Homo sapiens: one gene and its partners. The protein of the gene in region 3 interacts with the protein of the main gene of each other region in a pairwise test. Each region holds a gene or a part of one and is shown on either strand. Other genes may lie near its edges.

Region 1 (7,279 bases), on a different chromosome or scaffold from region 3:
GGTGGACGTTGCCATGAGCCAAGACTGCGCCACTGCACTCCAGCCTGGGACATAGAGCGAGACTCCGTCTCAAAAAAAAATCCAGAGATAAACAATTCCTAAGTTTTAAATTGCTTGACATTCTGAGTAGTGTGATGAAATCTTGTACCTTTTCTCTCTGGCCTGCCCAGGATGTGAATCATCCCTTTGACTAGCATATCCACACTGCAGACAATACCTGCCCATTAGTTCCTTAGTAGCTAGCCATCTCAGTTACCAGGTTGACTACTGTAGTATAGCAGTTGCCTGTGCTCAAGAATGCCTTATTTTACTTAATAATGACCCAAAAGCACAAGAGTAGAGACGCTGGAAATTCAGATATGCAAAGAGAAGCCATAAAATAAAAAGGTAAAAATTCTTGTCTTAAGGAAAGAAAAAATAATCATATGCTGAGGTTGCTAAGATTTACAATATAAATTATTTTGAGAGAGATACCACATTCATACAACTTTTATTACAATATATTGCTGTAATTGTTCTATCTTATTACTAGTTATTGTTGTCAATCTCTTACCATGCCTAATTTGTAAATTAAACTTTATCATTATTATGTATGTATAGAAAAAGAAAACCATAGTGTATACAGGGTTTGGTACTATTCATGGTTTCAAAGTATCCACTGGGGTGGGGCGCGGTGGATCACTTCAGGGCAGGAATTTGAGACCAGCCTGGCCAACATGGTGAAACCCCGTCTCTACTGAAAATACAAAAATTAGCTGGGCGTGGTGGCACGCTGTAGTCCCAGCTGCTCAGGATGCTGAGGCAGAATTACTTGAACCCGTGAGGTGAAGGTTGCAGTGAGCCAAGACTGTGCCACTGTACTCCAGCCTGGGTGACAGAGCGAGATTCTGCCTCAAACAACAACAAAAACAAAGTATCCACTAGAGCTCTTGGAACATATCACCTGTGGATAAGGGGAACCACTGTATATACAGATCTTTGTGAAGAATACTGCTAACAACCCAAGAGCAATCACTTATTCAGGGCTCACAATGAGCCCAGCACTGGAGTTCCCTGCTCATCCTTGGAAATTTCCTGCTCAGATGCAAACATAGCTGAACTCTCACCTTTTCCTGCTGACAGCCACTCACCCACATCTCCCTTACTAGAGATAGAAAGAAAAGAATAAAGACCAAAAAACCCTGTTGACTATTTTTTCCTTTCACTTTTTGAGAAGTGTTAATAGAACTGAAAATACCAGCAAGGAAAAACGCCCTCGAGGAATAGAGTTAATTGGATCTCCAAAATGTTGTCATGAAAGGTGCATTCCTGGGATATGAATTTGATTTCCTTCCTTTCTTCCTCTCTCTTTCTTTCCTCTCTCTCCCTTTCCTTTCCTGTCTTTCAAAACCATTCGCACTCCTTTTATGAGGCATGCAGATCTTGGATTATTCTTCCACTTTCCAGCCAACTGCACTTCAAAACAGCCTTAATAAGGCTGGGCACGGTGGCTCAGCCTGTAATCCCAACACTTGGGGAGGCCGAGGCGGGCGGATCACCTGAGGTCAGGAGTTTGAGACCAGCCTGACCAACATGGACCTCGTCTCTACTAAAAATACAAAATTATCCCGGCGTGGTGGCGCATGCCTGTAATCGTAGCTACTAGGGAGGCTGAGGCAGGAGAATCGCTTGAACCCGGGAGGCAGAGGTTGCGGTGAGCGGAGATCGCGCCATTGCACTCCAGCCAGGGAAATGAGAGTGAAACTCCGTCTCAAAAACAAACAAACAAACAAACAAACAAAAAAAAACGCCTTAGTAACAGTGCCCTCAAGAACCTGGCCTTCCAGTTCTCTGGCAGAGAAGACCTACTGCTGCCGCTAGTCCTCAAGATGGCATTTGCTGGAGGCGGTAGGCAGAGGCCCTAAGTGTGGATTCTAACCCCCGTGGGGACTGAATCTCTGCGGCTGTTGCTTGCCCAGGCACGTTTGCCTCCCATGAACTTCCTTCATCCACAGGGCCCCAAACCTCATGCCGGCGGGAGGAGGAAGGAGACTGGGCATAACTCATCAGACTTTCGACTGTAAGAGCTGGAGGCCGCCTGCGGGCTTATCTGTACCCGGGCCTGTCCCCACCCTTCCAGAATGTAAATCCTCTGAGGGAATGTGTCGTCGCCATCTTTCAGTCCTTTGAGTGCACCCAGTCTCTCTCCAACCCAAAACCCTTTATCCACAGCAATTCTGAGAATGATGAGAATCCCCCTCACCCCTCACACCGCAAACAGTTGCAATGCTTAGTGGGATTCACCCTTGTCGTCACCAACCCTGCTACTCCAGCCACGTGAGTTTTCCGCCTGTCAGCCAAGCAAAATGGCCTTCCTGCAGTCGCACGGCCCTTTGGTCTCTGCTCAGGGCTTCGGGGACCCTTTCCAGCCATTGCCCTGCACCTACCCACCAGATCGCCGCCCTGGTGGGCGCTCCTGGCCCTGTCCTCCGCGCTTAGTTTGTCATTGGGCGCCCAGATCCGGAACCCCAGCCTCGAAGCTTCCGGTGGCCGGGAACAAAGCCGGTTTTGCTCACTGTCGCCTGGCAAAGCAGGCGCTTGTTAGCACCCACTGAATGCGCTTATGTGCTCAGAAACGGTCCCATTGGTTGGGACTACCTTCCCCGATGCCCATCCGCCCAGAATCTTCCTTCTGGGATGCCGACTTTTTCAACACGTGCCAGGAGCCCTTCCTCGGCCCGGAATCCCCAGAGTGCCCACAGTGGACAGGGCACCTGGATACACCCCAGACTAACCCACGTTTCCCCGGAGGACCCCAGAGGTTGGAAGCCCCTCCAAGATTAGGGGCGCAGTGCTCCCCTGGCCTGCGGAAGAGTCAGAGGAGTGGGGACAACATCCAACATCAGCCTCTACTACCGCTAGCGCGACTCCCCGCCGCCGCTCTACTCACCTGACGCGCGCAGTGGACCGCGATTTAGGGGCACAGGGTCTCCCGGGGACCAGCGGCTGGAGCGCTCCGGCCGAGCACCCGCAGTCCCGGCGCCGCGGCCCCACCCCGGCCCCGCCCTCTTCCGCTCCCTCCCAGTCATCAGGCCACCGAGAATGTGCCCCTTGACCCAGATGAGAGGGTGAGCCCGCCAAGGTCAAGCTTCCCATCCTAAGAATCACAGACAGCCCGGCCATGCACCACCACTTCGAGCCTCCGACCAACTGATAGCTGCTGGTCCCAAGTAGCGCTAGGATTTTCGCTTTCCCAGTCTTAATTGACTCTAAAAGAAGAAGAAAAAAAAGCCTGGGCGCGATTGCTCACACCTGTAATTCCGGCACTTTGGGAGGTCGAGGCTGGTGAATTACCTGAAGTCAGGAGTTCAAGACCACCCTGGCCAACATGGCGAAACCTCGTCTCTACTAAAAGTACAAAAATTAGCCAGGCGTGGTGGCGGGCGCCTGTAACCCCAGCTACTCAGGAGGCTGAGGCAGGAGAATCGCTTGAATCCGGGAGGTGGAGGTTGCAGTGAGCCCAGATCACGCCACTGCACTCCAGCCTGGGCAAAAAGAGTGAAACTCCATCTCAAAAAAAAAAAAAAAAAAAAAAAAGAGGAAAGTATTTACGAAAAAAAAAAAAAAAGACCAAAGTATTATGATTAAAACACGCGGCTGAGAGCGGTGGCTCACACCTGTAATCCCAGCACTTTGGGAGGCTGAGGGGGCGGATCACCTGAGGTCAGAAGTTCGACCTCAGCGTGGCCAATATGGCGAAACCTTGTCCCTATTAAAAATACAAAAGTTAGCCGGTGGTGGTGACGCACACCTGTAATCCCAGCTACTTGGGAGACATTGCCGTTACTGGGCAAGTGTTCTTTCAAGAGCATCTTATCTGAATTACTATAGTACTAAAGAATGTCTAGGCTGGGCCCCCGTGGCTCACTCCTGGAATGCTAACACTTTGGGAAGCTGAGGAGGGAGGATTGCTGGAGGCCAGGAGTTCAAGACCAACCTGGGCAACATAGCAAGACCCTTTCTCTAGAAAAAATGAAAACAACTTGGCCAGGTGTTGTGGTACATGCCTTTAGTCCTAGGTGCTTAGGAGGTTGAGGTGGGAGGATTGCTTGAGCTCAGGAGTTTGAGGTTACAGTGAGCTATGATTGCACCACTGCATTCCAGCCTTGGCAATGGAGTGAGGCCCTATTTCTAAACAGAACAAAAAAAAAGAATGCCTGCTGATAAACCTTGTGACAGGACATTCATGAAGGATGAAGAAAAGATTTCTTTTATTTTTTTATTTTTATTTTTTTGAGACAGAGTCTCGCTCTGTTGCCCCGGCTGGAGTGCAGTGGCGCCATCTCAGCTCACTGCAACCTCCAACTCCTGAGTAGCTGGGATTACAGGTGCGTGCCACCATACCCGGTTAATTTTTTTTTTTTTTTTTTTTTTTTTAGTACACACAGGGTTTCACCATGTTGGTCAGGCTGGTCTCAAACTCCTGACCTCATGATCTGCCTGCCTCAGCCTCCCAAAGTGCTGGGATTACAGGCGTGAGCCACCGCGCCCGGCTAGAAAAGATTTCTTTCTTTTTTCTTTTTTTTTTTTAATTATACTGTAAGTTTTAGGGTACATATGCACAACATGCCGGTTAGTTACATATGTATACATGTGCCATGTTGGTGTGCTGCACCCATAACTCATCATTTAACATTAGATATATCTCCTAATGCTATCCCTCCCCACTCCCTAGAAAAGATTTCTTGTGGAGTTTTTAAAAAGTCCTTTGAAACAATTCTTTTCTTTTCCTTTTTTTTTTTTTTCGATACAGAGTTTTGCTCTTGTTGCCCAGGCTAGAGTGCAATGGCATGATCTCGGCTCACCGCAACCTCCGCCTCCCGGGTTCAAGCGATTCTCCTGCCTCAGCCTCCCTAGTAGCTGGGATTACAGGCATGCACCACCATGCTTGGCTAATTTTGTATTTTTAGTAGAGATGGGGTTTCTCCATGTTGGTCAGGCTGTTCTCGAACTCCCAACCTCAGGTGATCCACCCACCTCGGCCTCCCAAAGTGCTGGGATTACAGGCATGAGCTACCACGCCCAACTTAACAATTCTTACTTCAAACATGTAAGCATGACGTTCCTCTCCTTCATGCCTTCCTGGCCTTTTTTTTTTTTTTTTTTTTTTTTGAGACAGAGTCTCGCTTCTTCACCTAGGCTAGCGTGCAATGGTGTGATCTTGGCTCACTGCAACCTCCACCTCCCAGGTTCAAGCAATTCTCGTGCCTCAGCCTCCCCAGTAGCTGGGATTACAACCACATGCCAGCACGTCCGACTAATTTTTGTACTTTTAGTAGAGATGGGGGTTTCACTATGTAGGCCAGGCTGGTCTCGAACTCCTGACCTCAGGTGATCCGCTCGCCTCGGCCTCCCAAAGTGCTGGGATTACAAGCGTAAGCCACCGTGCCTGGCCTGGCCCTATTTTATCTGGGTCTGACAAAAGTTATTTCATCCTAGTATCTGCAATTTTTCCGCAGAAAATTACAGAGACGCACAGTGAATGTGAAAGGAGGGAAATTAACAATAGCTATTGGCAGAGCCAAACAAATCATTACACTTTAGCTGGATCATCTGGGAGTTGAGACCTTGAGGGTATAAGGAGGTAGCATGTCAATGCTTGTTAAGAAAGAATGGCAACAACTGTGCTGCCTTACAGATCAGCACCTTCTGCAGTCTGCGAGCCCAACCTTAGATCCATTTGTAGGCAACAGTAAAAGGTCTCATATTTTCATCGCAGTGAGCCCTGACTGCCATCAGGAAGATTTGGTCCTCTAGGTAAGATTTCCCTGAGACAAAGTACTATGGGAAATCAAGTGCATATTCAGCCTCTTAGTACTCTGGGTTGGTGTTACCGTACTGACGAAGGCGATCCATTGATGAAAAACAAACTGACCTAAAGAAATGTAAATAAATGCTTGCAGTCAGCCCTGTTCCTCTGAAAAATTCCCCTAGCCCTTATGTTGAAACCTGATGAGAACTTTAAAAATGTTAACTTGGTAATGGATGGAATCCTCCTCATTCAAGGTTACCCCTGTGCAAGTCAAGCTCAAGTCAGCCTGAAGGTGCAAACCCCATGGACTCAGCCAGAGCCTATGGCTGTGGGTGCTAGATCCAAGGCCAAAACTGATGGCATCAGCCATCAGGATGTTTCTGCCCAATATAAAGTATTGGGTGGGCTGAGAACACTGAAAGCTTGCCATGCAGAAAGAAACTGAAAGTAAATGCGTGACTTTAATGGAACAGAACTTGTTTCTCCCTCCATGCTCCCAATCCCTTTAGATCCCTTTATCTCACCTCAGCCACTTTAAGACAAAAGGTGATTAGAGGTGTAGAGAAGTTCTAATGGGATACATTCATTTGCAGTAGTCCCCCAAGGTACTGTGATAGGCAGAATTCTAAAGATGCTTTCCCCCTCAAGATTGCTTCCCCTGGTTATTCAGTCAAATACTAATCAAAGTACAGATGCTCTTCAATTTAAAATGGGGTTATGTTTCAATAAAACCATTGTAACTGAAAAATATTTTCAAGTGGAAAATGTATTTAATGCACCTAACCTACTGAATATATTAGCTCAGCCTAGCCTACCTTAAATGTGCTCAGAACACATTTGCCTACAGTTGGGCAAAATCACTTAACACAAATCCCCTTGTATGATAAAGTGTTGACTATCTCATGTAACTGGTTGCATACAGTACAGTATAGAGTACAGTATCAGTTGTTACCATCATAATTGTGTGGCTGATGGGAGCTGCAGCTCACTACTGCTGTCCAGCACCGTCACAGAGTATCATACTCTCTAACCCAGGAAAATATCAAAATTCAAAGTACAGTTTATACTGAATGTGTGTTGCTTTCACATCATCATAAAGTTGAAAAACTGTAAGTTGAGCCATCGTAAATCAGGGACCATCTGCACCACTATGTAGGGATTATGCTGTTGTAATTGAAGTCCCAAGACAATTGACCATAAAACAGGTTATCTGGTTGGGCCTGATCTAACCACATGAACTCCTTAAGGGGCAGAAAAAACAAAGATCAAAGAGAAGTTGGGAAGATTCAAAGCAAAAGAAGTATTCAGTGTACCATGGCTGTGTTTCAAGATGGAGGTGGCCATGAGCAAAAGAATGCAGGTAACTTCCAGAAGCTGAGAGCAACCCTTGGTTGACAGCTAGCAAGGAAACAGGAACCTAATTCCTATAATCACTTCTTCTCCCCTTGTCTTCTTCCCTTTCTTCGTGTGTAAGCGCATTATACTATC
Region 2 (6,864 bases), on a different chromosome or scaffold from region 3:
TAAAAGTTAACTGGTTGTGAAATCCCTCAAGCAAAATTCTTCACTGCTGTTCTTGCAATAAACATCATAAACATCAATATTAAGGAAGGGGATTTTAAAGGAAGCAGCTGAAAGAGGACACTTATAAAAGAAAAAAAATGAGACAATATGAAAGGTTTTGTGAAATATATTTCTTCTGTAGTAAATGACAGCTAATATATTCAAGAAGGCAATGTTCTGTATAAATTACTATCACTATCAATTTTTCCTTATACACACGCATACATTATAGAAATGTGTAAAACAACATCACTACTCATAATAATATAATTCGGCTGTGTGTAAAACATCACTACTCACAATATAATTCAGCCTATATTCCAAATTATTTACAAAAATATAATTACTACACTACACACACACAGACACACACACACACACACAGTGTTTCAACTTGTTGTTTCATTTTGTGTTTTAACTTTATGTTTTGGACATATTTCCAAGTTAGAACATTTAGAGCTACAATGTTTTAAACTGTATATTATTCCACCTTTGAATATACCATACATTATGTAACCAATTCCCAATCAATGGCTACAGAGCTGTATCCATGTTTTCTACATTGTAAACAATCCTACTTTAAACATCTTTGACAGAGATTTTTATTTGTACACTTGGGAGCATGTTTTGCTGGATAAATTCCAGTTAAGTAAATGAACATTTGTAAATCTGAACAGCTTTAACCCTAAAACAGCTTCACCAATTCACATTTCCACTAAAAGTTTGTAAAATTATATTTTCCTCACTGCATTTTCAACAACACCTAAAGTTATCAGACTTTCAAAATTTGTAAAATTAATGCAAAAATTGATGTCTTACTTCATATATGTTTTGGATAATTAGTGTGGCTAACAGTATTCACTCTGCTTATTATTTGCATTTCTTTTGCTTTGAGTTGACTCTTTTTATCCTTAACTGGGTCATTGATTTTGAAGGTCATTAATAAGATTTCTAGGTATATTAGCAAAATTATCTTTTTTTTTCTATTAACAATGTCCGCAGTTTGTATCTTTTTTGGGGGATGCAAATGTTAATAAAAATCATGTCCCTAAATGGGTCTAGGTTTTTGTATTATGCTTAGAAATGCTTTTCCCACATGCAATGTGCACAAATATCTATTCAGGCTTTCTTTTTCCCTTTTTAGGCTGCATATGTTTAGATTTAAACTAGTAAGCCATCTAGACTACATTTGTCTATTAACAGTGAGGAAAAGTTCCAGTTTTATTATTAGGTTTCCCAAACAAATTCCTGCTTGTCCAAGTACATTCAATTAAATGTTATTTCTTCTTCCCACCCAGTGATTTAAAATGTATGCTTATCAAATGCCAGCTTTCCTTTTATTCTTCCATGTCTCTTCAGTTTCATTTACACATCTGGTAGTAGGTCTACTGCACTGTCTTTTAATCACCACAGTTTTGTAACACCTTTTATTATATGAAGAAGTCTCCACTATATATATGTGTGTATGTATAATATTAAATGTTAAAATCATATATAATATATAAAATAAGACATAATTATATATTTTGTATTTTATTATTTGTAATATATTATACATAACGTTAATATGTTTGTTCTTCCACATGAGCTAAACAGTACAGTTAAAAACAGTAACAAAAATATTCAGTTAGGATTCTACTTATACGTTGTTTTAGAGAAATGATATCTTTACCTAGAAGAATGTTATGTATTTTATTGGATTCTCATACATACCTTTTTATATCTTCTTAAAAATAATTTCTCAATTGTGTGTTATTTCATGCCAAACTGAATTTTACTTTATTTTACTGTATTATCTAGTTTATGTATAAACATCAACTGACTTCTATAAATTAAGTATGATGCAATTGGAAACTTTGATAAATTCACTTATGCTTCCCATCAAATTTCAGTGTTTCCTATGGACATTAAGGTATACACTCACATCATGCATAAAGTGATAATATGTTCCCCTACCTGTTGTCACTCGCCCATAGAATTCACAACCATGTCACAGAGTGTAATGATTAGCATTCTTGTCTTTTTCAAATTTAATGGAAATGCTGCTAGTATTTCACAGCTATCCATGAGAGCAGATAGACAGATGGAGGTTGTGTTCTATTACTATTACAGGAGAATGCAATTTAAATTAGGCAATCTATTCCCCTTTAAGCAGTATCAAGTTTGGTGCATTATATCTTCACAAGTACTTATTTTGGTGGCTCCATTCTAAATGCAGTATAAAATTAAAAACTAAATTGTAGATCCTAAGAGAAGATAAGGCCACAAAATAAAATCCTAAGTCTTTAAATATGAACGTTTTTAAAAACAAATCAAGCACAGCCCCAAATCGCCCCAGTTTGCCAGAATTGGAAATAAGAGAGAGGGATTCTCTCCTGTCACCGCCTCCACTCGCTGAGCAATTAAAAAGTTACTATAAATAGCGTTTTTACCTGCGAGTGGCCTGGCCTGAGTCCGTGAGAGCCGCGCCGTAGAAACGCCAGAGACCCATGAGAAACCCAATCAAGCGAGACCTGTCACGCAGAGCGAAACGAAAGGGCCGCCCCCGTGAAGTGCAGCCAGGACCCCCATCCCTGGGCAGGAAACTGCTCGCTCCCAAACCCTCTGCGTCTGCAGTGCAGACGCGCGCCCGACACCACGGAACTTCTGCAACCACCTGAGGATGCGACGCGAGCGCAGTGTCCGGGAACTGCTAGCGCAGGACGCCGCGCAACCTCCGCGCCTGCCCGCAGGCACCGCGGCCTCGGGCCTCCCCTGACGACGCCCTCGGCCCCGCAGCCCGGGCGCCCGCGCCACCCTGTCCTGCTCTGCGCCCGCCTGTCCAGCCCCACTCACCGCCTGCCCCGCAGAATGCTGGGCACCGGGGACGCCAGACGCCGGGTCTAGTTGTACTGGCAGAGGAAAGGGAAAGGAAAGGAGGCAGGGAAGGGAGACGGAGAGGATTTTTCAAGTTATAAACAAAGTAAGCGCGCGGAAGGGAGGGCTAGGCGCGGGTTCTGGGGGCGGGTCCGGCACGCCTGGACCCTCCTTCCCCGCGCGCGGCTTCCCCGTCTCGGACCCCGCCCCGCGCTGGGAGAGCCGCCAGCCCGGGGGAGCGTCTTCCTGGAAGAGGTGGGGCACCCTGAAGTCCGCTGAAACCTAAAAGCCGAGGGGGAGGAAGAAATGAAGAAAATAAGTTGTCACTACTCTAATAAGAGGTGAAAGAAAAGATAAAAGCCAGCCCACGGTCACTTCCAATCAGAGGGGCAGGTTGCAGGGCCTGGGAAAGGGAGCTTTGTTCATAGATTACTGCGCCTAGAGAGAAAATGAAGAAACCCCTCTTTCTCAAGAGCCTTTTTTATTTTTTTATTTTTATTTTTGATACGGAGTCTCACTCTGTCGCCCAGGCTGGAGTGCAGTGGCGCGATCTCGGCTCACTGCAAGCTCCGCCTCCCAGGTTCAGGCCATTCTCCTGCCTCAGCCTCCCTAGCAGCTGGGACTACAGGCGCCCGCCACCACGCCCGGCTAATTTTTTGTATTTTTTACTAGAGACGGGGTTTCACCGTGTTAGCCAGGATGGTTTCGATCTCCTGACCTCGTGATCCGCCCGCCTCGGCCTCCAAAAGTGCTGGGATTACAGGCGTGAGCCACTGCACCCGGCCTCAAGAGCCTTTTTGATTTGCATTTGCGCCCACCCCCAGGTCCTTGGCTTGGTGATTTAGCCTTGGCAATGCCGTGCTGGCTGGAAACACTTGGGCATAGGGCCCAGAAATTCTGTTTTCTTTTCCACAGAATTGGGGGAGGCCAATTTGATCTTGGAGGGAAGGCGGGAGAGACGCCAATAAAGGGGAAAGGGAGCAGGTTGCCCATGTTTTCTGACATTGGGAGAAAAATGCCATTTGCTTATTACTGTTAGGCACAAATATTTCTTTCAGACCAATGGGATTCAGTTCTGTGGTGGTGCTTGGAGAGAAGCACAATACACTGACAGGAAGTGGGAGAACTGAAGGTCCTCTGACCTTATAAAGAATCAGAACTGGACAGAAGTAAGCTTGATTAAGCTCTGAGGAGTACTTGGCAGAACCCCATTGTGGGAGAAGGTTGGAAAGGGGAAGGGATGTGGGAGTGGAGTTCTAGAATTTTATATTTTTCTTTGTATGTGTGTTATTTGTTAATATTCATGTGAGAATAGATTAAAAAATTCATACTGTTCTTCTCAGTAATAATTGCACAGAACATTTCTCAGATGCAGACATAGTGTTTTACTGAAAGCATAAAACAAAGAAACTGGTGGTGAAACTAAATTATAATAGCATATGTTACTGTTGGGAGCAAGCCCCCCAAAATCTGGCCATAAACTGGCCCCAAGACTGGCCATAAACAAAATCTCTGCAGCACTGTAACATGTTCATAATGGCCCTAATGCCCAAGCTGGAAGGTTGTGGGTTTACGGGAGTGAGGGTGAGGAACACCTGGCCCGCTCAGGGCGAAAACCGCTTAAAGGCATTGTTAAGCCACAAACAATGAGCATGAGCGGTCTGTGTCTTAAGGGCGTGTTCCTGCTGCAGTTAATCCGGCCCATCCCTTCGTTTCCCTTAAGGGATACTTTTAGTTAATTTAACATCTATAGAAACAATGCTAATGACTGGTTTGCTGTTAATACGTGGGTAAATCTCTGTTCGGGGGTGTCAGCTCTGAAGGCTATGACACCCCTGATTTCCCACTTGACACCTCTATATTTCTGTGTGTGTGTCTTTAATTCCTCTAGCGCCGCTGGGTTAGGGTCTCCCCGACTGAGCTGGTCTCGGCATGTTACCTTTGTTTAAAATTTATGAAAGAGGCCAAGTAATTGAGCTTATGAATGTAAACATCCACAGTGGCCACGTGAAGATACCAAAAATTTCAAGAGCAAAACATGTCTTGTGAAACATATTGCTTTGAGGGATTAAAATAAAATCAAGTATGTCATATACCCCAAATCACAACTTTCGAGGGGAAGAAGAAGAACTCAATTTCCTGTTTTTCTGAAATTTCCTGATCTGATGACTTTCCAACCTGGACATTTCGAGGGATGACAAATTAACTACTTTTTATACTAATCCCATTTTAGTTGCTCTGTTGCTCCAAGTGTATTTCTTCGTGTTATTTCCTTTTCACTGGTTGTTCTTAGGTTACCACAGTCTACTTAGAGTTAATAATGTACCACTTCACATAAAGTTAAGAAATTTATAATTACTTTACAGTTCCTCAATTGTATGTGCAAATGCTATCAGATTTTACATACCCATTAATTATAGACTTTACACAACAAAATGTTTTAAGTTTTGCTTAACTAGTGCATTGTCTTTTACAGAAATTAAAAGAAGAAAATAGCTTTTCTATATTTCCACATATACACAATTTCCTGTGCTCCTCGTTTTTTTTCTTATAGATCTTAATTTCACCTATTATCACTTACCTTCAGGCTAGAGACTTTCCTATAGTAGTTCTTGTTATTTTTGAGACAGTGTCTCACTCTGGTTGCCTAGGCTGGAGTACAGTGGCACAACCTCAGCCCACTGCGGCCTCGACCTCCTGGGCTCAGGTGATTCTTCCACCTCAGCGTCCCAAGTAGCTGAGATTACAGGCACATGCCACCATGCCCAGCTAATTTTTTTTTTTTTTTTTGGAGGGGGGAGACAAGATTTGGCTTTGTTACATGGACTGGTCTAAAACTCCTGGATTCAAGCAGTCTGCCTGCCTTGACCTACCAAAGTGCTGGGATACAGGTGTGAGCCACTATACCTAGTCCCTTTAGTATTTCTTGTAGTGCAGAACAGCTACAGACAAAATCTTTTTAGATTTTTAAATCTAAAAATGTTTTTATTTTGTATGAATTTTGTAATGATATTTTTACTGGTTATAGAATTCTGGGTGTACAGATTTTTTTTATTTTATTCCCCAACAATTTTGACCTCCATTTTTATCTGACAGAATGCATATTGTTGGTTTTAAGAATAACTTTTTATCATTGGTTTTTCTGCAGTTAGTCTATGATGTATGCTTCTTTCTGTATTCTACTGTGGTTTTCTGAGTTTCACAGATACATAAGTAGATATTATTCACAAAATTTGAAAAACTTGCAGTCATTATTTCTTTACTGCACCATACCCATTTCTCTCTCTTCTCCTTCTGGAAATTCAGTTCAATTAATTGTATGTTGGACCATATGATACTGACTCACAGCTCACCAAGACTTTATTTACATTTTTTTGATTTTTTTCTCTTTAAGTTAAATAATTTCTATGGATCCGTCTCAAAAATATGCTGACCCTTATTTCAATCTACTGTTAAGTCCATTACAGTATTAACACTTTTCAGTGCTAGTATTTCTATTTGGTTCATTTGTGCAGCTTCCATGTCTTTTGATGAGATTTCACATCTGTTCATTCACTAAGACCATCATTTTCTTAACTTTTTAACTTATAATAACTGTTTGATAAGGTTTGGATCTGTGTCCCTCCCAAATTTCATGTTGAAATGTAATCCCCAGTGTTAAAGGTGGCCTGTTGGGAGGTGTTTGGATTATAAGGGAGAATCTCCTGTGAATGGCTTAGTGCCATTGCCTTAGTGATGAGTGTGTTCTTGCTCTGGTAGTTCCTGTGAGATCTGGTTATTTAAAAGAGTGTGTCCTCTCCCCTCTCTGTCTCACTCCAGCTCTTGCCATTAATACACCTGCTCCCCGTTTGCTTTCTGCCGTGATTGTAAGCTTCTTGATGCCTCACTAGAGGCAGATGGTATCACTGTGCTTCCTGTGCAGCCTGCAGAACCATTTAAACCTGTACAGCCTGCAGAGCCAATTAAACC
Region 3 (7,630 bases):
CAACGGTCTTTTAAAGCTTCAGGAAGCTGCTCAGGCACCTATTCCCTCATACATTCTACGTTTTATATGCTAGAGATCTTAAACAGGGCACAATCAGTTCCTGTTTTGTGATAACATTCTCAAGGATGAGACTCATCCCTGTAAAAATTGCTTGTGATGTACTTATCAGTGGTTAAGCACACATTTATAATGTCTACCAAATTGCAATATAAAATCAGTTTGGACAATTCTGAGTATCTTCATTTGATGAATCAATTCATAATTTAGAAACTTAACTCATTCAGAGTTTTTAAAAAGACTCAGTTACTGGAGACACTGTGGTAAATGTCCAGTGGACTCACAGGAGGCCTTCCACATTACCCAAAATGTGATGCTTTCTTCTACAAGTTAAAGCTGCTGGGTGCTAGTTTATAATACTCAATCTCAATCGTATGCCCAGTGGACTCACAGGAGGCCTTCCACATTACCCAAAATGTGATGCTTTCTTCTACAAGTTAAAGCTGCTGGGTGCTAGTTTATAATACTCAATCTCAACCTTCAGGTCAGTGTCAGTAGGTGGCAAGGATCACCTATTCTGTCACTCCAGCAGAAAGAGGCATGTATGTACAGTTTACCACTGTAGACACACATCTGTAAACTTGCACACTAATTTTAATCTTAACAAGGAATTTCAGTGTCTTAGTGGTTTTAAGTTAAAAGGATGGTTCAAGCATTGTATCCTTTGTTCTTTAGGGTTACCATAGCTTATTGGAAAACCCAGAGCCTTCTGGATGTGTGAGGTAGTAGGCTTCAACCCTCATTCATGCATAGGTCACACTTCTCCAAAGTTGGTATGGCCTGTCTCCTTGGCATGTTCCCTTGCTTCTGCTTGTCCAGTTAATCCTTTCTGACATACCATGCATCTCAGGGTGAAGCGGTTGACATCAGTAAACTGTCTCCTTCTTCTAGCTTCATCTGCTAATTCCAGTGCTTGTACAAGAACAATATCATCATTAGAGGAGAAAATGGTCAGAGGAGGTGTATCTGGATCAGGGAAGTTACGCTGAAGTGGATCATAGTGGATGCCATCATAAATAAGCAGAACCCTTTTGGTATATCCTGCATCTTCCCCAAAACGATCAATTCTTACTGTCTGTGTATCCACTACACATATTTCACATTGGTAAAACTTGGACAAAATCGATATCTCTATTGCTCCTCCCCAAGTGTCATCCCTTTTGATCCAGTCACAGTACTCTTGATTTGTTTTTCCCAGTATTGCCTCACTATAGAAGTCTGGATCGCTTGCTACAATTTGTGCTATGAGGCGTCTCATCTCAGGGGCACAAGCTGGATTCAAGACTCCTCCTTCGACGACATAGTACACACTAGTAAAGAGGCAAGAGTTGTCTGCTGGGACCACGGTTCTGGTAAGCACAGGCAAAGTTTCCCTGACGTAACTAGAAGCACCACGTTTAGTAAATGCAGGTGAACTTCTGGGCCTGGTTTGGTCTTCTTCAATGATCAGCATGTCACCTGTTAAAAATAAAACAAATCCCGATCTGCAAAGAAATTACAGAAGAAACCGAGTGTTCTCTAGCCAAGTCTGTAAATTACAAACTGAAGGAGTTAAAGCATAAACTGGGGTTACTAAGGAGAATACAGTTTTGCAAGTAAGTTACCAGTAAGAATCTTTGTTCACTGAATTTTCATAAAGATGAAAAAAGAACAAAAAACACTTGAGGTTGCATCCCAATTTAGTGAAGGGGTCTGGAGTAAACAACTTCAAGCTTACCTAAAAAGATACATTTCAAAAACAAAATTTCCTTTCCTTATACAGTATTTTACAGAAGGTGCTCACTACAGAGTAGGCCGCTAGGGGGTTCTCCTTCTCCGGAAACTTATCTACTCTAGAGTGTTTACAACATCCTTGATACAGCAACTGAAAGCTTTTAATTATAAACACTGATGTTCAAGTTTTGATATGGCACAGAAATAACTGCTGCTGGTTAGAAATTGAAAGAGCTTTCAGTGGGTGTTTTAAAAGCTAACTCGAAAATGAGTATGCCTGTCAAACGAAGTATCTACGAAGGGGACTGCAAAAATGAATCAAGAAAAAAAAAATCCTGCACCCTTGAGATCTCATCGGTGATATAGGGAAAAAGAGACATAAGGACAGAGAAAATAGGCCCTACTTTATATTTTTGTGGACGCCGAGGGAAAACAAAATGGGATAGTTTCAAAGCCGACCAGAAAGCGGAATGGGGAAGGGGGTCTTCAAGGCTTTGGGTTCCCTTTCAACCCTGTGTCAAGACAAGGAGTTGCTAGACACTTGCCCTGGCCCCCGTCAGCATTCTCTGTTCTTTGATCTATCCTCGCCCCTGGCCTCAAAGCCCCCCCGCCGACTCACAGCCACCTTGCCTTGACTGGTGTTTTGTTCTCTCTCACGCCCCTCTCCATCCTCCCGGGACTTTCCCTGGCCCCAGCCCTGATTCCTTACCAGATTGGATGGGCAAGTCTTCCAGAATGGTATCCCCATTGCTGAGATCCAGGCACTCGGGAGGGTATCCGACGAGGATTCGCTGACCGCCGGGGGCGATCCCGGTGATGGCGGCAATTTGGCCCTGGAGTTCCCGCACCCGGGTCCGGCTGGACAGCCCCTGCAAAACATGGGTGCCGTCCTTGGCCTTGCAGCGGAGCCGCCACATCGTGTCGGTCCGGCTGCCCACAGGCCAGGCACCCGCGGGGCCAGCTTTGGTCCCGGCAGCCTGTTGGGAGACGCCGCCGGGGAAACCAGGCGCCGGGTGGACTCCAAAATGGCGACCTTTAGCGGGGCCAAACATCGCGAGAAGTTGCGGGTGGTTGCAGTTATCGCGACGCTTCGGTGCGGCTTCTGCCTTAGTACCTTAGCAAGCGCGAACTCTTTTAAAGTGACAACTGATTTTTCCCCCACCCTCAGAACGAAGATGTAAACCTCCGTATTCCTAAAGGACAACGGGTCTTGCTACCTATAGAGCGAGTGAGGTGCCCTCCGCGTGGGTAGCATATATGCTCAAGAAAAGAGGGCGGGGGAAGGAGTTCCTGAATGAAGGTCTGGAGATTGGAATGTGACCTTGCACTTAGTGAGGTCGGAAATTATTAAATTGGGGCTTCCACACTACACCCAGACTACACCAGGAGAAACAGAATCATAGTTCACAACGCAAACGAATGCCAGGAATGGTCAGTGAGTCAAAGGACCAGTCAAAAACAATCACACTTGTGACTAGACTCGTGGCTGCATTAAACATTGACTCATTGGGGTTCCAGGGGCCAAAAGACTGGCCTTTCTGCCTCCCTGGGACTGTGCTTGAAAACGTCTATTTGCCACTTCAGAAAGCACAGTATGAGGTCAGCATCTGGGCCCAGGGCAGCTGCCTCATTCAGGTGGTGGCAGTGTAAGGAGGAGTCGTGTAACGCGTGTCATCAGATTCCAGTTCAGTTCCTGGGCATACAAATATGAAGACTTCATTCCTGCCTTCATTGTAACAAGTATTCATTGCAGTTGGGAGACAGGGTGGGGTGTGAGACACACAGCCACTGAATTTCAAAGCAACGTGATAATGCTAGATTATCTGTACCTTTTCAAACGTGTATGCCTAGAACCCAGGACTGTGCCTCGCAAATAAAAAGTGTTCAACAAATACTGGCTGAATGAATAAAGACAGAGTTGTATAGACATAGAGAGGGCAACTAGAGCACTCTGGGAGTTGTAAAAAGCCTTAAAGAGGAGATAACTGTTTGAACTTTTGGAAGAATTAGTTTAATTCCCAGGCGAAGGAGGAATAAAGACATCCCTGAATTTATATCTCTCTTTTCCAAGAAATCCATACTCATTGTTCTTTATCCAGCCGGGATTCAGACAGCAAGTCCCACTTGCCAAGAGTGGGTTTATCAAGCATCAAACGGGCCCGCTGGGGCAACTATGAAAAGTGTAGTTCACTTGGTGCAAACTCACCTCCACTGTAAAAGACTTTGCTTCTGAATAAATTATATGTAATGTTTCCATCTTTTCACATCTTTCATGACTCAATTTTTTTTTGCTGGTGCAATTTTCCTCCTTGGTTCTTCAAGACGACTGCAACGGATGATACAGCCTGGGTTAGGGGGTAGGTAGGAGGGAAGGTAGGAGTGGTTAGAAGTCCACCGGGGTGGCCGGGCGCAGTGGCTCACACCTGTAATCCCAGCACTTTGGGAGGCCGAGGCGGGTGAATCACCCGAGGTCAGAAGTTCGAGACCAGCCTCATCAATATGGAGAAACCCCGTCTCTACTAAAAATACAAAATTAGCTGGGCGTGGTGGTCCATGCCTTTAATTCTAGATACTGGGAGGCAGGAGAATCGCTTGAACACGGGAGGCAAAAGTTGCGGTGCCAAGGTCGTGCCATTGCACTCCAGCCTGGGCAACAAGAGCAAAACTCCATCTCAAAAAACAAAAACCAAACCAAACCAAAACAAAAAAAACTCCAATGGGGTGTATGGGTGGGTCCAGGGAAGCTTCTGGTTCAACGATGAGAGTGGTTGATTTTCTTAGGTCACAGCGTCTGACCTGTGGAGCCGGGTATGTATACACCCTAAGGCATAATTAGCTCAAGTGTTGTGGTAGTTTATTCTAGCAAAAACATCTTTAAAGCTTACGTTCCCATTTATGGATCTAATGAGGTTCTGCTGGGATTCAGGAATGAGAGCGTTAATCTTTGCAGCATTTTCTCGTCACCCGGCACACCCGCTCTCAAGACGCCTACCGAATAGTCTACTCTCGCGAGAGTCAGAAAAAAGTCAAGCTTTTTATTAACACCGCCCCCAGCCCTATTAGTTACCAAGCAACAGTGCCACCAGGCTCCTCGGCGCTGGGAAACTCAGGAGCTTGTGATCTCTCTGGTTCCGACTTCCAGCCGCCTTCCCGAGCCAGTTAGGCGATTGCGACCCTGCCCCGCCCCCTGGGTCCTGCAGGCGCCCGATTGGTGGATGATTCTCTCCAGGTGAGGACCTACGCGCGAGGGGGCGGGGCCAGACGGGCTCACATGATTTGCCGGCGACTGTAGCGCCGGTCCCGGCCACAAGCTGTCGGCTCGGTTCGGTCGCGTTACAGGGCAGGCGCCGGGGCCAAGGCAGGGAGGGATCTTAGGAGAGATCGTAGGGTGAGCCACAGCTGCGCAGCCCCGGGTAGGGTCTAGCGGGGCGGGATGTGGGGGCTGCGTGCCCCCGGATGAAGTGCGGGGAGAGGTGCTGGTCCCCAGGCATGGCAGGCAGCGCGGACGTTCTGGGACCGGGAGCCACAGTCTGTGTTTGGGTTGGAGGATTTGTGTGGTCAGTAAAGGAATCGTGTAAGGCTCTTGAAGGCGCAGGATCTTCCGTCCTCACCAGCCCCCTGTTGTCTGAATTGGGGGCATGAGCTCAGGACTTTCCCACTCCAGTTTGAATCAGGGCTTACCCCTCTTCCTGAGGTGACCTTGGGGAAGTCATTTACCACCTCAGCGCTCCGGCGTTCTTTAGACTGAGTCCCGGGGGTAACTAGGGAGAGGGTGCGGAGCAGGGCTTGAGAATGCACTAGAGGAGAAATGACGACGTGCTAGGGCTGTCTTGGGGTCCAGTTACTGTTTTTCCTTCAGGGAATATGTTCGAGATTTTCCCACGTCCCTCACTTTTTTCTTTTCTTTCTTTCTTTTTCATTTTTCATTTTTTTTTTTTTTTTTTTTGACAGAGTCTCGCTCTGTCGCTAGGCTGGAGTGCAGTGGCGGGATCTTGGCTCACTGCAACCTCCGCCTCCCGGGTTCAAGCGATTCTCCTGCCTCAGCCTCCCGAGTAGCTGGGACTACAGGCGCGCACCACCAGGCCCGGCTAATTTTTGTATTTTTAGTAGAGACGAGGTTTCACCATGTTGGCCAGGATGGTCTCTATCTCTTGACCTCTTGATCCGCCCGCCTCAGCCTCCCCAAGTGTTGGAATTCCAGGAGTGAGCCACCGTGCCCGGCCTCACTGTTTGCAAAACTGAGTCCTACCGTTAGATTGGAGTTAATTTCCTGGTAATGTACTTCGTCTATACATAACCCACCCCACCCCAACTGCTGCCACTACTCTGCCCAGATTCTTAAAACTAGAATCTGAGGTCATGAAACCTTGAGCAGGACACTTAATTCGATGAATCTCAAATTTTCAATCTGTAAAATGAGAAGAAATAATGGTGGCAAAATCTGCCTAATTACAAGATTATTGTTAGGACTGAAGAAGATAACGTCTGTAAATGTAGACTCGTAAGTCAGAAGATAAATGTAAGGTTCTAGTGCAACTCTTTTTATAGGTGAGGAAACAGAGGGCTAGAGAAGTAGCTGCTAACTGGGAGAAACAGGACTGAACCTGCCTCTTGGCCCAGGGTGTTTTTACTTATACCACACGGATCCAATGCACTGACTTTTTTTAAGTTATGTCTTCTTTCTTCCCCTTCCCTTTTTTACATTCTACTTCTCTGTTTCAGACATCTGAAGAGCTGCCATGTCTGGGGCATCTTCCTCAGAACAGAACAACAACAGCTATGAAACCAAAACCCCAAATCTTCGAATGTCAGAGAAGAAATGTTGTGAGTTCTGGCAGAGAGGAGGGACTGCTCTCTCTCAGCATTTTATCTTGGGAATATAGTTATAATCCTGGACTCTGCTGCTTGGTGGGAGTGATAAATAATTATTTGACATGGAAATTTAATGCAAAGTCTCCAGGGTAGAATGTCCTGTCTAAAACAAGTAGACTTAGTGAAATGTCTGTTCTTGGGGCTTGACTACTGGTGTAGTCCAGCAGTTTCTTACTGCTTTCTTAAACTGAATCTCTGTCTCCTGGGATGTTTGCACACTGGCTTGCTGATGGAAGTTAGAACTAACATTATTGTACACACAATGAGTAAGGCACAGTTGCAGGTGCAGGAATTACTTGGAGCTGGTAATGTTACCAGCTTTATCTGTTGGGCTAAGTTTTGGGAGAGTGCTGCTCATTGTAGAAATTGCAGATGGGAGCCAGTGCTGCTTGGTTTCCTTCCTACAGGCCTGAGGGGAATGAGCCCTGACACTTGGCTTCTCACAGTGTCTTGGGCATCTTACTTTCTCACAGGTTTAGCCTTTGTACTTTGTAAACTATTTTCCCTATAGGTTCATTTTTTTGAGGACAGCTTTCACATGAGCATTTTCATTTCTATGCCTGTCTTTTAGATAGAAACAGCAGGAGGGTTTGCGAGGAGATGAAGCATCATTTCCTGTCCCCAAGCATCTGTATTTCTAAGCATCATAGGCTGCATAGCTTCCCAAAAGATCTGGGACTCTGTTCCCCACATATTTTGGGGAACTTCAAGGAATGCTAACTCTTGCCTCTGCTTCTGGATGGCACCATTCCTGCAGAATCCTGTCAGTCAGTTCTTCTCACTTCAGTGGTTATATATATATATATATATATAGCCAGTTAGTCAAGGAATATATATATCTCAGCAGGTGGAAACAGCCGACCAGCATGAGACCAGGAATTATCTCATGTTCAAAGCTTTTCCCAGAGCCTCGACCTTGATGTCATGCCCTTGTCAGTTTCATGATTGACAATGATAATCTCTCTTCACCTAGCACCCATGGAGCCTG

Evidence for each region. The genes of interacting proteins can lie anywhere in the genome.
Region 1: the proteins of YOD1 (region 3) and ZFP57 interact in binary tests that used the Homo sapiens proteins (3 or more experiments, as listed by UniProt).
Region 2: the proteins of YOD1 (region 3) and PLSCR4 interact in binary tests that used the Homo sapiens proteins (3 or more experiments, as listed by UniProt).

The regions. Positions count from the first base shown.
Region 1 is NC_000006.12:29,678,133-29,685,411, forward strand, and holds the start of ZFP57 (zinc finger protein 57 homolog), read right to left. Parts: upstream 3,021-7,279; 5' UTR 2,930-3,020; intron 1-2,929. UniProt on the Homo sapiens protein: Transcription regulator required to maintain maternal and paternal gene imprinting, a process by which gene expression is restricted in a parent of origin-specific manner by epigenetic modification of genomic DNA and chromatin, including DNA methylation.
Region 2 is NC_000003.12:146,248,086-146,254,949, forward strand, and holds the start of PLSCR4 (phospholipid scramblase 4), read right to left. Parts: upstream 3,021-6,864; 5' UTR 2,875-3,020; intron 2,553-2,874; exon of another isoform or gene 2,472-2,552; intron 1-2,471. UniProt on the Homo sapiens protein: Catalyzes metal ion-induced ATP-independent rapid bidirectional and non-specific movement of phospholipids (lipid scrambling or lipid flip-flop) between the inner and outer leaflet of the plasma membrane and participates in the redistribution of phospholipids between membrane leaflets.
Region 3 is NC_000001.11:207,048,209-207,055,838, forward strand, and holds the start of YOD1 (ubiquitin thioesterase OTU1), read right to left. Parts: upstream 3,001-7,630; 5' UTR 2,823-3,000; coding exon 2,480-2,822; intron 1,516-2,479; coding exon 812-1,515; 3' UTR 1-811. Other genes in the region: PFKFB2 (6-phosphofructo-2-kinase/fructose-2,6-bisphosphatase 2), read left to right, coding at 6,510-6,594. UniProt on the Homo sapiens protein: Hydrolase that can remove conjugated ubiquitin from proteins and participates in endoplasmic reticulum-associated degradation (ERAD) for misfolded lumenal proteins.